2 separate regions of the Homo sapiens genome follow, and region 1 is linked to region 2. The links come from fine-mapping of genetic effects on gene expression. Tissue or cell type: CD4 T cells. Region 2 holds a variant in brackets; the other region holds the start of a gene. All regions are shown on one strand. Distances are between the middles of the regions.

The links. PIP is the estimated chance that this variant, and not a neighbour inherited with it, causes the effect.
Region 1: it holds the start of MAP1LC3A, and the variant in region 2 is fine-mapped to the expression of MAP1LC3A in CD4 T cells (CEDAR, PIP 0.95).

What each region holds. Positions count from the first base shown.
Region 1 is chr20:34,555,311-34,563,415 of GRCh38, forward strand. MAP1LC3A (microtubule associated protein 1 light chain 3 alpha) reads left to right here and starts at 3,408. Exons shown (of 4, transcript NM_032514.4): 1 at 3,408-3,598; 2 at 3,898-3,953; 3 at 4,037-4,143; 4 at 4,426-5,035. The coding sequence starts at 3,559. The coding sequence ends at 4,588. It overlaps PIGU (phosphatidylinositol glycan anchor biosynthesis class U), which reads right to left. Exons shown (of 12, transcript NM_080476.5): 12 at 5,232-5,669. The coding sequence ends at 5,556. RefSeq lists silencers at 3,110-3,199, 3,540-3,589, 5,164-5,213.
Region 2 is chr20:35,097,821-35,105,925 of GRCh38, forward strand. No RefSeq gene overlaps it. Among named protein-coding and RNA genes, the nearest start is that of TRPC4AP, 9.1 kb to the left of the region's middle. RefSeq lists enhancers at 3,538-4,039, 4,040-4,539. The variant G/C (reference allele first, on the strand shown) is at 3,114.

The DNA of each region.
Region 1 (8,105 bases), 540 kb before region 2:
ACTTCTGTATTTTTAGTAGAGACAGGGTTTTGCCATGTTGGCCAGGCTGGTCTCGAACTCCTGGCCTCAAGTGATCTGCCCACCTCAGCCTCCCAAAGTGTTGGGATTACAGGCGTGAGCCACTGTGCCTGGCCTAATTTTCTCATTTTTGTAGAGACGGGGTCTCACTATGTGGCCCAGGCTGGTCTCAAACTTCTGGGCTCAAATGATTTTCCAACCTGGGCCTCCCAAAGTGCTAGGATTACACTATTACTCCTTCTTAAATTTCTTTGAAACTCTGCTCATGGATTTTCTGTATTTATTATCTAAGTAATACATCTATGTAATAAGGCTATAAATCTGATTTTTTTTTTTTTTAAAGAAATGGATCTTATTTTGTCACCGAGGCTGGAATGCAGAGCTGCAATCACAGCTCACTGCAGCCTTGAACTCTTGGGCTCAAGCAATTCTCCAGTCTGGGCCCCCCAAAGTGCTGGGATTACAGGTATGAACCACCACACCTGGCCTGCCATGGCCCCCCTCCCAAGTTTTCTTTCTTTTTTTTTTTTTTTTGATGGAGTCTCGCTCTGTCGCCCAGGCTGGAGTGCAGTGGCGCGATCTCCATTTACTGCAAGCTCCGCCTCCCAGGTTCGAGCCATTCTCCTGCCTCAGCCTCCCGAGTAGCTGGAACTACAGGCGCCCGCCACCACGCCCAGCTAATTTTTTGTATTTTTAGTAGAGACGGGGTTTCACCATGTTAGCCAGGATGGTCTCGATCTCCTGACCTCGTGATCCGCCTGCCTTGGCCTCCCAAAGTGCTGGGATTACAGGCGTGAGCCACTGCGCCCGGCCACCAAGTTTTCTTAGCATATGTATCCTCATTTTTTGTTTGAACTAAATAATTTTTATTTATATATGACTTCATATTTAGAATAGGTTTAAATTTCCACACAGCTGGAGCTTACGCGGCTTTTGTCTGTGGCCAAAGAATATGGTTGAAACTGATTTGATATCTGTTGAGATTTGTCGTGCACCCTAGTAGTTGGGTCATTTTTGTAAATGTTCCTTGTGTGATTGAAAATAATGTGTTGGTCTCACACAGGTCTGAAATTTAAATTTTAAAAGTTAAAAAACTAACTGTCAGGTTTTCTATTGGGGTTCATTGATCTTGATTAGTAACTGTATTAACATCCTCTATGTCCTTTTTTTTTTGGTTGTTTGGTTTATTAGTTACTCAAAGAGGTCTTATGTCTCCCTATGATGGAGGACCTGGCAATTTCTCCTTGTGTTCTTAATATATTTTCAGCCTCTTTTTTTTTTTTTTCGAGACAGAGTCTCACTCTGTTGCCCAGGCTGGAGGGCAGTGGCGCAATCTCAGCTCACTGCAACCTCCGCCTAGCAGGTTCAAGCAATTCTTGTGCCTCAGCCACCTGAGTAGTTGGGATGACAGGCGTGCACCACCACGCCCAGCTAGCTAATCTTTGTATTTTTAGTAGAGACAGAGTTTTGCCATGTTGGCCAGGCTGGTCTTGAATTCCCAGCCTCTAGTGATCCACCCACCTCGGCCTCCCAAAGTGCTGGGATTACTGGCATGAGCCACTGCGCCTGGCCTATTTTCAGCCTTAAAAACAAAAACCCTGGAACATAGAAGTTCAGAACTTTCCTCTCTTCACAGAGTTCCTCCTCGCATCATTTCATGTTGATCCTCTTATCCCCAGTGTCTTCTGCCTGAAGGCCTATTTTGTCTGAGTTTTCTATAGGTACATCTTTTGGTTAGTTTTTCTCTAGTACACCTTTTCCCATCGTTTTACTTTTTGGTGCCCTTAGGTTTTAAATTTCCTCTTGTAAATAGCATAGAGCTGCATCTTATTTTTTCTTGGCCAATCTGGTCATCTGTGTTTTAAGAGGTGAATGTAAACCACATTTTCTACCTCTGGTTTTGTACTATATATTTACCATCCCTTTTACTTTGCTTCCTTTTTCTCCCTTTCTGCCTTCCATTATAGTTTTAATACCCATCACTACCCTTTTCTCTGCATTGGCAGTTATAGTTCCGTTTGTATTCTTTTGGTGATCCTCTTAAATATCTGAAATACACACCTGACTTTACAAAGCCAGACAATGCTCAGTCTCTTTAACCCCCTCTCAAATTGCCCTCTCAGTCTTCCATGTTCTTGTGTCTCATGCATCTTGTTTCTGTGGCCCACAAATTAATCATTATTATTCATATTGCATATTAAATGCTTGTTTAGATTCACATGTTTACCAATTTGCTCACCATTTTTCCATCTAATTTCTTCCTTTTGGGTTCCATGTCCTTGTTACTAAACTACATTCTTTAAAAATTATTTCGGCGGCCAGGCGTGGTGGCTCACACCTGTAATCCCAGCACTTTGGGAGGCCGAGGCGAGTGGATCACGAGGTCAGGAGATCGAGACCATCCTGGCCAACATGGTGAAACTCCATCTCTACTAAAAATACAATAATTAGCTGGGGGTGGTGGCAGGCGCCTGTAATCCCAGCTACTGAGGAGGCTGACTGAGGCAGGAGAATCGCTTGAACCCGGGAGGCAGAGGTTGCAGTGAGCTGAGATCGCACCACTGCACCCCAGCCTGGCGACAGAACGAGACTTCGTCCCCCTCCCCCCTCCCCCAAAAAAATGTTGATCTTCAGTCTGCGCATTCTGCTCTGGATTTTAAGCATCATTTCTGGCAGCTCTTTTTCAGGAACTGTCTCTGCAGGTCTTTCAGTGTTCGCCTCTGGAGCTCTGCTCGGGCCCGCGAGTTCTCCTGGCGTTGCCATCTGTGCCCTTTTCCTTATTCCCCATCACCTGTCTCTCTGGTGAGCTGCTTCCGATCAGCCTCCAGGTCCACGATTTCTCTTCTGTTGTCCTTTTCTGCCTTCTCACCTCATCCTCTGAGACCTGAATTTCGATGGCTCTACTTTTCAATTATATTATTCTTTTTCAAACCTGGGCGTTCATTTCTAGCATCCTGTTCTATCCTGTGTCTGACTGTGCCTCCCGCACCTTCTCCCTTCTCTCGCCCTAAGCCCCGTGAAGGCGCCGGGCCTTTGGCTCCGGCTGTTTCCCACGGCGCCCAGAACCGCGTCAGTCCTGACACAGACTCGGTGAGGGCGGGAAGTGGTGCCGTGGGGCTGCAGCCTGGCCCGCCCGCTCCATCGGCCTAGGGCGGCCCCACCGCCCTCCGGGCCTTACCTTGAGTTCGGGCTGCGGGAGAAGCTCCCGCGCTGCCCATGACGTCACGGGACTGTGACGCGCCCAGAAGCCCCGCCCCTCGCGTCCCGGTCCGCGGACCCAGGCTCTCTGCGCCGTGACGTCACGGGTCCGGGCGGGCGGGTTGTGCGTCGGCCCAATGGGAGCGGCGCACTGGCCTCCCCTTTAAGGAATGTTGTGACCTGACGTCACCGGGCGAGTTACCTCCCGCAGCCGCAGCCGCCGTGCTCAGCGCGAGCCCCGGAGCCCTTGAGCGCGAGGCGCGGAGCCCCCGGAGCCCCCAAACCGCAGACACATCCCCGCGCCCCAGAGCCCCGGCCTGCGCGCCCAGCCGGGCCCGCGCGATGCCCTCAGACCGGCCTTTCAAGCAGCGGCGGAGCTTCGGTGAGGCCCGGCAGGCGAGCTGCGAGCTCTGGGGCAGGGGTGCCGGCCGACCCCGACTGCCGCAGGTGACGTCAGCCCCGTGACGTCAGGCTCTGGCTGGACCCTCGGGCTGGGACCAGCTCCGGCCTGGGCGGGGGCTGCCCGCTTCCCCACCGCGATAGGTGCCAGGGGCTGTGGGGCCTGATGGCCCCGGGGGTGGGGGCTGGAGCTGGGGCGTGGCCGGGGGCCGCCCCTCCGGGACAGGCGGGGCGGACCTGGGCCGGCCCGACCCGGCCTCACGGTCTGGCCGCTGTCCGCAGCCGACCGCTGTAAGGAGGTACAGCAGATCCGCGACCAGCACCCCAGCAAAATCCCGGTGAGTCCCGCACCCCCAGCCCTGCCCCGCCCCCGCCTCGCGCGTTCCCGACACGACCCCCTGCCCGCCCGCCCTGCTCCCAGGTGATCATCGAGCGCTACAAGGGTGAGAAGCAGCTGCCCGTCCTGGACAAGACCAAGTTTTTGGTCCCGGACCATGTCAACATGAGCGAGTTGGTCAAGATCATCCGGTGCGTGGGCAGCCGCCGCCAGGAGGTGGCTAGGGTCGGGAGGGGAGCCGGGTTCCCGCCGAGAAGGGGTGGGAGTGGGGTCAGGGGTGATGGGACCGGGCGGTGGGCCCCTGTTCTGGGGTGGCTGGAAAGGTCAAGGTCGGGGCTGCAGTCGGTGTTGGGTCAGAGGTGACAGCTGGGGTGAGAATGGGTGTGAAAGGCTGGGAATCATTCTGGGGGTCAGGGCTATGTCCGTCCCGCAGCCAAGCCCCTCACAGCTGCATACTCTCCCGCCGGCTGCAGGCGCCGCCTGCAGCTGAACCCCACGCAGGCCTTCTTCCTGCTGGTGAACCAGCACAGCATGGTGAGTGTGTCCACGCCCATCGCGGACATCTACGAGCAGGAGAAAGACGAGGACGGCTTCCTCTATATGGTCTACGCCTCCCAGGAAACCTTCGGCTTCTGAGCCAGCAGTAGGGGGGCTCGGCCTGGGAGTCGGGCGGCCCCGGTCAGGCCCTGCCCAGAGAGCTCCTGGTTCCTGAACTGAGCTGCCTCTACCGTGGTGGGCTGGGCAGGCATGTGCCCCCCTAGTCAGAGGGCACCAACCCACCTACTCTGCCCCTGGGTGGATCCTGGGCCGGTCGTGTTAGGGTTGTCCCTCTGGGTGCTGGCTGGTGGGATGGGGGAGGGTGGGGAGCAGCTCCCAGCACCCCTGCTGTGTGGTTCATCTTTTTTTTAGGCCCCTGCCTGTCTGCCCATCTGCCCCTCACCCACCCGAGGCTCTGCCCACCGCCTGGACCTGCCCACCCCTGAAAGACTGGCCCCTGGCTCCCCGCCCCTCGGTCTCCACGTGGTGTATGGATCTGTGGTCATTGTCCCTCTGCAGAATAAAGATTGCTCAGGCCTGCCTGGCCCTGTGCCTCCAGCCGCTTGCTTGGGAGTGGGGAGGGTGCTGGTGGGGCTGCCCGCACCATCCCCGGGCTCTGGCGCACAGACTTGTGTTCTGTGGCCGCGGTGCTCGCTCTGGAAACCCACACCTGTGTGTAGTGTTCCAGAACATTATTAGGGGCCACCCCCTCTAGGAGTGCAATGCAGATGTGGTCTCAGGGTAGACTTCATAACAAAAAACATTTATTAAGTAGCCACAATCTAACAAGCCCTGCTCACCTGCCTCTTCTCCTTCCTGTCTGGGAGGGGGCTCCTTGGTGTGCAGAGCCACAAGGTGGGGGTCCAAGTTGGGGAGCTCCCAGTTCTTCCCCATAGGCCTTGCTGTCAGTCAGCCATGGGTCCCTTTTGGTACCAGAGACTTGTGACCCTGGACTCGAACCTCTTCTGCCCAAGCACTCGCCTGCTGGCAACTCTGGCTGGAGGGCTTGGCCCAGCTTCTGGCCCCACAGCCCCCTGAGGTCCATGCAGCCCTGTGCCAGCCAGGCCTACTTGAGCACGAGCATGGCCTCTGTGCCATCCTTGGCGGTCAAGTAGAGGCCATGTGTGAGGTAGTACTCCCGCCGCAGGAAGGCATAGAAGTAATCAGAGATGAGCAGGATCTGGGGGGAGAGAGAGGGTGTGAGGCGCTGCTGGGTACCTCCCCCTAAACCCAGGATCCCTGAACTGCTGGCAGGTGTTGTTGGAAGACAGGAACGCCCCTGCCTGGCTCTGGATCACAATCACTGGAGAGGCCCTCCTCAGGGCCCCCACCTCAGGGCCCATAATTGACCCTGCAAGGTCTGGCCTCTCAGAAGCTGCCTGGACTCCCCCTGCCCCCACCCATGGTCTACACCTCCATCCCAGGCTCTGGCCTCGAATGCCAGCCTGGTGCCTGTGCAACCAGAGGCCTCTGCCCCATCCTCCCACAGCCACTTCCATCCCAGCCAGGTCCACATCAAACTCCTCACCTTCCCTCTGTCAAATACACTTCTCCCACTCAGCATCCATGCCCCCATCTTCCAGCCAGGTGCCCAGGCCACAAAATTGCCCTGACACTTCTCTCATACATCGAGCCACCATGACCTGTCAATTCCCCCTAAACTCAAATCCACCCTTTGGATCCATCCCCACAGTCACTACTCTGGACAGAGCCACTGTCATCTCATCTCCTAAACAACAGCAAAGCTTGGTCCTTGGGCTCCCTGCTCTCAAACCCGTGCCCACCCCATTCTCCCTGGCAGCCAGAGGGAGCTTTTCAAAACCCACATCTGATGGTGTTACTTCCAGCCTTCAAATCCTCCAAAGGCTTCCCAAGCCTTAGGGCAAAGCTCGAACTCCCTCGTGCTCTGAGACCTTGCTAGGGTCCCTGTCCGCCCTCTCCCGGCTCCACCTCACCCCACGGCAGGATCTTTACTGTTTCTTCTGCCTGGAATGTTCTCTCCCCGTTCATCTAGTTGACAGCTGCTTACTCTTCAGGGCTCAGGAAGGATCACTTGCCCCCCAGATTAGTTCTTGGCCCCACTAATCTCTACTCGATAACAGACTCATCGAAAGTGTAATTTTCCATTCAGCTGACAGCCTGACTGTGCCTCCTCCCCTGGCCCGGGGCCTCCATCAGGGCAGGGTCTTCGAATGGTTCTGTCACTATGGTATTTCTGTGCCCAGCTCAGTCTGTCTGTCCCATTCTGGGCCACACACAGAAGAATCAAAGGGAGCCTAGAAGCTCAGCCCACTGTCTCTTCAAGGAGGCCCAGAAAGGAATAGGGATTTGCCAAGGGCCCTATACACCAGACCCGGAGTCTGCAATCCCAGTCAGCCCAAGCTTCCCAAGACCACTGGTCCCTGGAGCAGGTTGGGCAGGGCCCAGCCTCAGAGAAGGATGAGGGGACAGGGGCTCACACTACAGACACCGCAGCTCTCAGGCACCTGGAGGCCTCAGAGGATTGGCACCAACCACCTGGCACAGATGGGGAGACTGAGGCACAGAGCACTTGGCTATGGTCTTGGGGCAAGACAGGTTGAGCTAAGCCTGGGATCTAGACCTCCAGACCCTGTCCTGGGCAGCTTCTCACTGACCTGAAGGTAACACAACAGCAGCTAAGGAGAGATCAGAGGCGCCTGGAGGAGTTCAGGAAGGTGTCCTGTCACCAGCAGCTCTGATGGCCTCAGGACAAGTACCTGCCATTCTATCACCACAGAAGCCCATCTGGAAGGTTGAACAATCCTCATCTTAAACAGATGGGGAAACTGAGACTCAAAGGGTTCAATGGTTGGCCTAAGGCTACACCTGGAGCACTGGACTAATGGCCATGGACCCAGAAAGGTGGTCTGCCTGGGGCCCAGATCACTGATGAGCACGAGATTGGTCACAGCGTCAGCAAAGCAGACAGAGCTCAGGCAGCCCCCGAGGCCCTGCCCCCAGCTGCCCAGCTGGCAGCTCCAGGCTGGCCCACTGGGGGGCAGTGATCACAGCAAAGGCTGACCTCATACCCTGCAGCCCTTTCTCACCCAGGCCCGAGATGCCATCTGGGCAGGAGGAGCCCAAAGCAGGGGCTGAGCTCAGAGGCTGATCCCTGAACCAGGTCAGCTGAGGGGCAGGTGCAGTCACAATCCACAACAATCAAAACGAAGCAACTCCATGTCACACAATAATCATCTGGACAAGAAGCAGGAAGAAAAAGATTAGGTTATTAGGTTGGACCATATGAAATTGCCAGTTTTGCAGATAAAAAAATGGTTGAATACTGGCAATTTCATATGATCCAACCTAATATAAAACGGAAAAACGTACACATGGAAAAGTAAGCATGTTATTTAGAAGTACCAACAGAAATAACAGTAAGACTTTAGGTAGCTATTCTTTTCCCCTATAAGCCTTAACTTTGCAAACTACATACATGTATTCCATTGATAAAAATAAAACTTCGGCGAGGTGCGGTGGCTCATGCCTGTAATCCCAGCACTTTGGGAGGCCGAAGCAGGCGGATCACCTGAGGTTGGGAGTTCGAGACCAGCCTGACCAACATGGAGAAACCCCGTCTCTACTAAAAATACAA
Region 2 (8,105 bases):
ATACATATATATGTGTATATATACATATATACACATACATATATGTATATATACATATATGTATATATACAGCTCTTTCCATATATGTATCTCTCTCTATACTTCATTTATACGTAGAGAGGGTTTGTGTTAGTTTTGCTAAACATTTTTTTTTTTTTAGACAGGGTCTCGCTCTGTTGCCCAGGCTGGAGTGCAGTGGCACGATCATAGCTCACTGTAGCCTTGGGCTCCTGGGCTCAAGGGATCCTCCCATCTCAGCCTCTCAAAGTGTTGGGATTACAGATGTGAGCCACTGCACCCATCCTGCTAAGCCATTTTTTGCTAAACCATTTGAAAGTAAATTGTAGATATTATGACACTTCACCTGCATATTTTAGAATGTATCTCCTAAGATCAAGGACATGCTCCTAAAAACTATGATACCATCACACCCAAGAAATTTAATATTGATACAATTTATCTTTTTTTAAATTTATTTATTTAAGACAGGGTTTCACTCTTTTTGCCCAGGCTGGAGTGCAATGGCACAATCTCAGCTCACCACAACCTCTGCCTCCTGGGTTCAAGCTATTGTTCTACCTCAGCCTCCCAAGTAGCTGGGATTACAGGCATGCGCCACCACACCTGGCTAATTTTGTATTTTCAGTAGAGATGGGGTTTCTCCATGTTGGTCAGGCTGGTCTCAAACTCCTGACCTCAGGTGATCCGCCTGCTTTGGCCTCCCAAAGTGCTGGGATTACAGGCATGAACCACCATGCCCAGGCTTTTTTTCTTTTTTGACATGGAGTCTTGCTTTGTAGCCCAGGCTGGAACACAGTGGTGTGATCTCGGCTTACCACAACCTCTGCCTCCCAGGTTCAAGCGATTCTCTTGCCTCAGCCTCACGAGTAGCTGAGATTACAGGCACCCACCACCACACCCAGCTGACTTTTGTATTTTTAGTAGAGATGGGGTTTCACCATGTTGGCCAGGCTGGTCTCGAACTCCTGACCTCAAGTGATCTGCCCACCTTGGCCTCTCAAACTGCTGGGATTACAGGCATGAGCCACCATGCCTGGCCATTATTTATCTTATAATCCATATTCAAATATCTGCAATTACCCCCCAAATGTCCCTTACAGTCTCTTCCCCCCAGTCCAGAGTTCAGTAAAGGATCATGCATACATTTGAAAGCTATGTCTTGTCACTGTCTTTTAATCTAGAAGAGTCCCTCATCTCTTTTGTCCTTTCGGGATATTGACAGTTTTGGGGTCCGGGCCAGTTGTACTGAATACCCTGACATCTGGATCTGCTTTATTGTTTTCTCATGATTTGGTTAGGATTAAGCTTTTATGGCTAGAATATTAAACAGGTGATGGTGTGTCTTTCCCATTGCTTCATATCAGAAAGAAATAATGTAAATGTGTCCCATTATTGATGATGCTAAGTTTGATCTGTTGGATCAAACTTAATATGTCTTCATTGGAAACATACATTTTGGGGTTAATAAGTAATCTGTGGCCTTCAAGACTACGAGACTGTCTTGTTCTCCACCCACCTTTCACCCAGTAATGTTTGTGTTTGTTTGTTTTGAGATGAAGTCTCGCTCTGTTGCCCAGGCTGGAGTGCAGTGGCGCAATCTCGGCTCACTGCAACCTTCTGTTCTTCTTCTCTTGCCTCAGCCTCCCTCCCGAGTAGCTGGGACTACAGGCACGAGCCACTTCACATTGCAAGTTTTGCTTTTTTTTTTTTTTTTTTTTTTAGTAGAGATGGGGTTTCACCATTTTGGCCAGGCTGGTCTGGAACTCCCAACCTCAGGTGATCCACCCGCCTTGGCTTCCGAAAGTACTGGGATTACAGGCGTGAGCCACCGCGCCCAGCCCCCACCCAGTAGTTTTTTTTGTTTTGTTTTGGGTTTTTTTTGTATTTTTAGTAGAGACGGGGTTTCACCATGTTAGCCAGGATGGTCTCGATCTCCTGACCTCGTGATCCACCCACCTTGGCCTCCCAAAGTGCTAGGATTACAGGTGTGAGCCACCACACCTGGCCAACCCAGTAGTTTTTATCATCCCTTGATGATCCCTCCCTGGATTATCATGCTGGTGGTTGCAAAATTGTAACTTTCTAATTCTACCATTGCTTCCTCTTTTATTAGGTAATATTCCCCCCCAAAAGGAGCTCCCGCCCTTTTTCTGGGGTATCACTATGGACTCATAAACTTTTTTTTATTTTATGTGTTATAATCCATTACTATGGTTATTCTATTTTCCCTTGGTTTTATTAGGGTATCATTTACATAAAATGAAATGCATAGATATTAGGTAATATGTAATCTGATGAATTTTGACATATGTATATACTTGTGTAACCAACACCTGAATTTAACCAATACTCCCAATGGATATAGAAATTTCCATTACTCCAGAAAGTTCTCATGCACTTGTTACTTACTAACTCCAAAGGAGAAAAATGTACCTCTCCACTGTTCTAATTTTATCATCATAGATTAATTTTGACTGTTCCATAACTTCCTATAAATGGAACCATCTAATATATAGTCTTTTGTGTTTAGCTTTTTTCACTAAGGATGATGTTTTCTAGATTCATCCATGTTGATCTGCATGTCAGTGGTTCATTCCTTTTTACTGCTGGGAAGTGTACCGTCTCAGGAAATGATAGTCCAGGGCCGGGTGCAGTGCCTCACACCTAGAATTCCAGCACTTTGGAAAGCTGAGGTACAAGAATCGCTTGAAACCAGGAGTCTCTACAAAAAATTTTAAAATGAGCTGGGCTTGGTGGCACACACTTGTAGTTCTAGCTACTTGGGAGGCTGAGGTGAGAGGACTGCTTGAGCCCAGGAGTTGGGGTCTGTAGTGAGCTATGATCCCACCACTGCACTCCAACCTGGGTGACAGTGTGAGACCCTGTCTCTGAAAAAATAAAAAAGAAGATGATACCCTAAGATAAAGGCTTCAGAAGCAGCTCTCTCTGACCGTCTCCTGCCCTTCTGTCTCTGGCCTCTTATTCTCCCCTGAGGCTAGTCATAGAAACTAGAATCCCTCTTCCCCAAGGCAGGGTTTAGAAACCAGAAACTGGCAGGGCGCAGTGGCTCACTCCTGTAATCCCAGCACTTT[G/C]GGAGGTCGATGCAGGCGGATCACCTGAGGTTAGGAGTTCGAGACCAGCCTGGCCAACATGGTGAAACCCCATCTCTACTAAAAATACAAAATTAGCCAGGTGTGGTGGTACATGCCTGTAATCCCAGATACTCTGGAGACTGAGGCAGGAGAATCGCTTGAATGTGGGAGGCGGAGGTTGCAGTGAGCCAAGATTGTGACACTGCACTCCAGCCTGGGCACTAGAGCAAAACTCCATCTCAAAAAAAAAAAAAAAAAAAAAAAGAAACCAGAAACCTTCCTCCTTCCCCTTGCCAGCGGTGAAACCAAACCTAAAAATATTACTCTAACTCCCTCCCCCTAAACCACCACACCTTTCTGTGCATAAACTGGCCATCAAGAAATTATCCAACCTACCTGGTTTGACTGTAGGTCATAAGACCCCCATTCCAGAGAGGGTCCTGCTGCACACCCGGAAGGAAGGACAAGAACAAAACTCTGTCTCAAAAAAAAAGAAAAAAAATTCTGTGTGTGTGTATTTCTCATTCTTTTTGATGCTCAAATTGTCCCAAATTTGACCATTGGTAGTCCTCTCAAATTAATTCCTGTGTCATCTTTGGGACAATCTTAATTTTAAATGGGCCCTGTGGGACTTAAACTTGTCCAACACTATGATCGGTTCTGAGTTCAGAAAATAGTCTCTCTAAATTTTTGTTCCAATCTCCACAGATGTAGATTCTTACCTCATTCCCAAAGCTAGTCACTCCTTAATCTACAACAGCCATTCTTCAGCAACACTGAAGACTCTTATGACATAAAGTTGAAACTTCTTTCCCCAAATGATGCATGCATCCGACACACAGGCAGACACACACGTGCATGCGCAGACACACAGGCAGACACACACGTGTGCGTGCGGACACACAGGCAGACACACGTGCATGCACACACACACACATTTTGCCAGTGGTTCTTGGATTGTTTACAGTGATCTCTAAATCACTGAACGCCTACTATGTATTAGAGATTGTGCTAGATGCAAAGAAATGCAAAGGGAAGAAAATAAGAAAATTAACATTTAAAAAAGACCTAGGCCCCATGTGGTGGCTCACACGTGAAATCCCAGCATTTTGGGAGGCCAAGGCAGGAGGGTCACATGAGCCCAGGAGTTGGACACAAGCCTGGGCAACATAGTGAGACCTCATCTTTACAAATATATATATATTTTTTAATTAGCCTGGCATGGTGGTGCATGCCTGTGGTCCCAGCTAGTTGGGAGGCTGAGGTGGGAGAACTGCTTGAGCCCTGGGGGCCAAGGCTGCAGTGAGCAGAGATTGCACAGTCCAGCCTGGGCAACAGAACGAGACCCCGTCTCAAAAAGAAAAAGAAAATACCTACCATGTATGTTCCGGACATTGTACTAAGTGTTTGATACATGTCATCTTAACAAAGATGCATAAAATAGAGATTTCATAAACTAACAAATTATCACAGCACACTAGAATACATACTATTGTAAATAAAGGCATGTAGTCACTGAATTACATTCATTCACCAGATATTTCTTGAAAACTTCCTATGTACAAGCTCTGCCCCAGGCGTGGGGGATACATCTGTGAATAAGACAAATGCAGCCTGTGCCTTCTAGGGCTCAAGTCTAGTGGAGGAAGGCAGACACATAAGCAATTACCATCAGAGCTCCAACCCACACAAACATTTTTAAAAACATATTATTGTAGAGACAGGTTCTCACTATGTTGCCCAGGCTTGTCTCAAACTCCTGGCCTCCAGCAATCCCCTCACCTCTGCCTTTCAAAACATTGGGATTGCAGGCGTGAGCCACTGCATCTAACCCAAAAATATGTTTCAAAAAGAAAAACAAAATCTAAAACCCACTGCCTCTGAATCTGTACTATATTCTTTGGAAGCTCCTCACAGGTGACAAATTAGCATTGTCTTATATACAACCCAAAGCCCTCTGAGCAGAGCTTGATGAATAAGTGGATAATTAATATCTTTTTTTTTTTTGAGACAGAATCTCACTCTGTCGCCAGGCTGGAGTGCAGTGGCATGATCTCAGCTCGCTGCAACCTCCAACTCCCTGGTTCAAGCGATTCTCCTGCCTCAGCTTCCCGAGTAGCTGGGATTACAGGCGTGTGCCACCATGCCATGCCCAGCTAATTTTTGTATTTTTGGTAGAGACAGGGTTTCACCATGTTGGTCAGGATCACAAGCTCCTGACCTTGTGATCCGCAGGTGCAGATAGAAAAGAAATCCCAGATTGAGTGTTGTGCTGTAATCCTAGAAAACAATCGATCAAATCAGAACAGACTCCATGAATAAAAAGAAGAGATTCCAACCAGAAATTAATGTCAGAAATTTGAAAAGGGAATATCATTTCAGATTCTTCAGCACCAAAAGATCATAAGAAGACATGATGAATAACTTTATGCCTATGTATTTGAAAATTTAAGTGGAACAGAAATATTTCTAGAAAAAAGTCTTACCTAAATGGACACAAAACATAATAGAAAATTGGAATCATCCTATAACTATTAAAGACATTTCATCTCTAATTTAAAAGGTTCCCACAAAGAAAACTCCAATCCCTAATGCCTTTGAAATCTACCACACTTTTAAGGAAGAAATAATGCCAACATCACATAATTTCTTCCAAAGGCCAGGAAAAAAGGTCACCAACCGACATGAAAGCAACATAACATTGACACCAACATAGGAGATAAGGTGCAAAAATATCTCTAATTTCATTTCATTCAGTTCAAACCGTGATACAGTTTGCCTGTGTCCCCACCCGAATCTCATTTTGAATTGTAGTTCCCATAATCCCCACATGTTGTGGGAGGGACCGGGTGGGAGGTAATTGAATCATGCGGGCAGTTACCCCCATGCTATTCTGATCATGAGTTAGTTCTCACAAAATCTGATGATTTTAGAAGGGGCTTTTCCCCCCATTCGCGCTTCACTTCTTGCTGCTGCCAGGTGAAGAAGACCTTGTTTGCTTCCCCTTCCACCATGATCATAAGTTTCCTGAGGCTTCCCCAGCTATGCGGAACTGTGAGTCAATTAAACCTCTTTCCTTTATCAATTACCCAGTTTTGAGTATGTCTTTATTGGCAGCGTGAGATTGGATTAATACAAACTGCTTTCATTAATAAAATTGCATCAATTTGTTGCAGCAATGTTGGGAACATCTAGTACCCTTGTTCTCAGTCTTGAGCTTGCATTAGAATCACCTGGAGGGGTTGGCTTTGTTAAACCAGATTGGGGGCCCATCTGTGGTCAGGGATGGGGCCCAAGAGTTTTAAATACAACAAGATCCTTGGTAATGCTGTTGCCTCTGCACCAGGGACCACTTTTGACAATCACTGACCCAGTGGCACATACTATTTTGAAATCTTGCTTGCCATAGAAGTAATGTTATTTGGAATGCTTGGACAGGCTCAGTATGTTGGAACAACTTCTAATTTAATTCTCTAAGGATGTAAAAAAAAAAATCTTGGTTAGATTGGCCAACATTGATATGATTGGCCAATTTCAATATGCTAAAGTAAATGATGTGGTCAGCTGTAATCCCTGAAAATTTGTTTTCAAGAAGTTGATTATCACTGTTTTTCCCCCAACATATATATGAATTTTAGCAGGATCCCTTTGTTTTCCTAAGATTTACAGCATATAAAAGAGTATTCCAAATAGCATTGCTTTCAGATTCTTCTAACAATTTTATAATAACTGTATTATATTTTCATTCATATTTGCTACTCTCATACAATGTCTTTATATTTGTCTGGACTAATCTGTATTGGCCAAAGTTACAATTGTCAATTCTCTGAATGCTTTTAATCCAGTTTTGTGAGAGAAGATTAACCAAACAAGAAGACCCTCCTTAAAATGTTCTTACCACTCATGTAAGATATAAGCTAAGTGTTGTGCAACTTTCAATTTGACTTTCTCTGGTTGGATTACAAAATCTATACGAGATTGTAACAGCATAATAAGCATTGTTTCCAACATTCCGCAACAGTATAGATTCAAGGAGAAACTCTATTATTGCTAAGGTATGTTTTTATGGCTTGCTACACCATAAAAACTATACACACCAAAATACATGCCAGAGAATAAATGTTTTTTTCAGGAACCATGTGAGCAATTTTTTTCTTTTGGCACATAATATGCAACCCAATACAATGATAATAAGGCTTTCTCACTGACAGTCACAACATGAATCATAAAATTTGCCTATCACATTATATATGTTTTTCTTTCTTTGGAAATATTCGAGAGACTGACTAATTCAACATGTCATGTTTCCAAGCATCTTTTAAGTTTTGATGGTTTTAAGTTCTCATTTGCAAGAACATCATTATAATGCATTGGTGTACATGTCATTTTGTTGGTTTTACACATTTCATAAAATAATACACACATATATGTATATATATATATAGAGAGAGACAGAGTTTCATAATTATCACCCAGACTAGAGACTGTGATCTCAGCTCACTGCAACCTCCGCTTCCCGGGTTCAAGTGATTCTTCTGCCTCAGCCTCCAGAGTAGCTGGGATTACAGGCGCCTGCCACCACACCTGGCTAATTTTTGTATTTTTAGTAGAGATGGGGTTTTGCCATGTTGGGCAGGCTGGTCTCAAACTCCTGATCTCAGGTGATCTGCCTGCCTTGGCCTCCCAAAGTGCTGGGATTACAGGTGTGAGCTGGCTGGGCATGGTGGCTCATGCCTGTAATCCCAGCACTTTGGGAGGCTGAGATGGGAGGATTGCTCAAGGCTAAGGGTTTGAGACCAGCCTAGTCAACATAGTGAGACCCCCATCTCTATTAAAATAAATAAATAAATACATAAATAAAGCAAATCTTGCATTTACCCTTTTTAACAAGATGCAAATGATGTCAGTCTGTTGATTAGAGTTGATATTTTCTCCAATATTTCCATTTACTCTTCCCATGTTTTTCACCTTATTATTCTTGTTCTTTGTAGC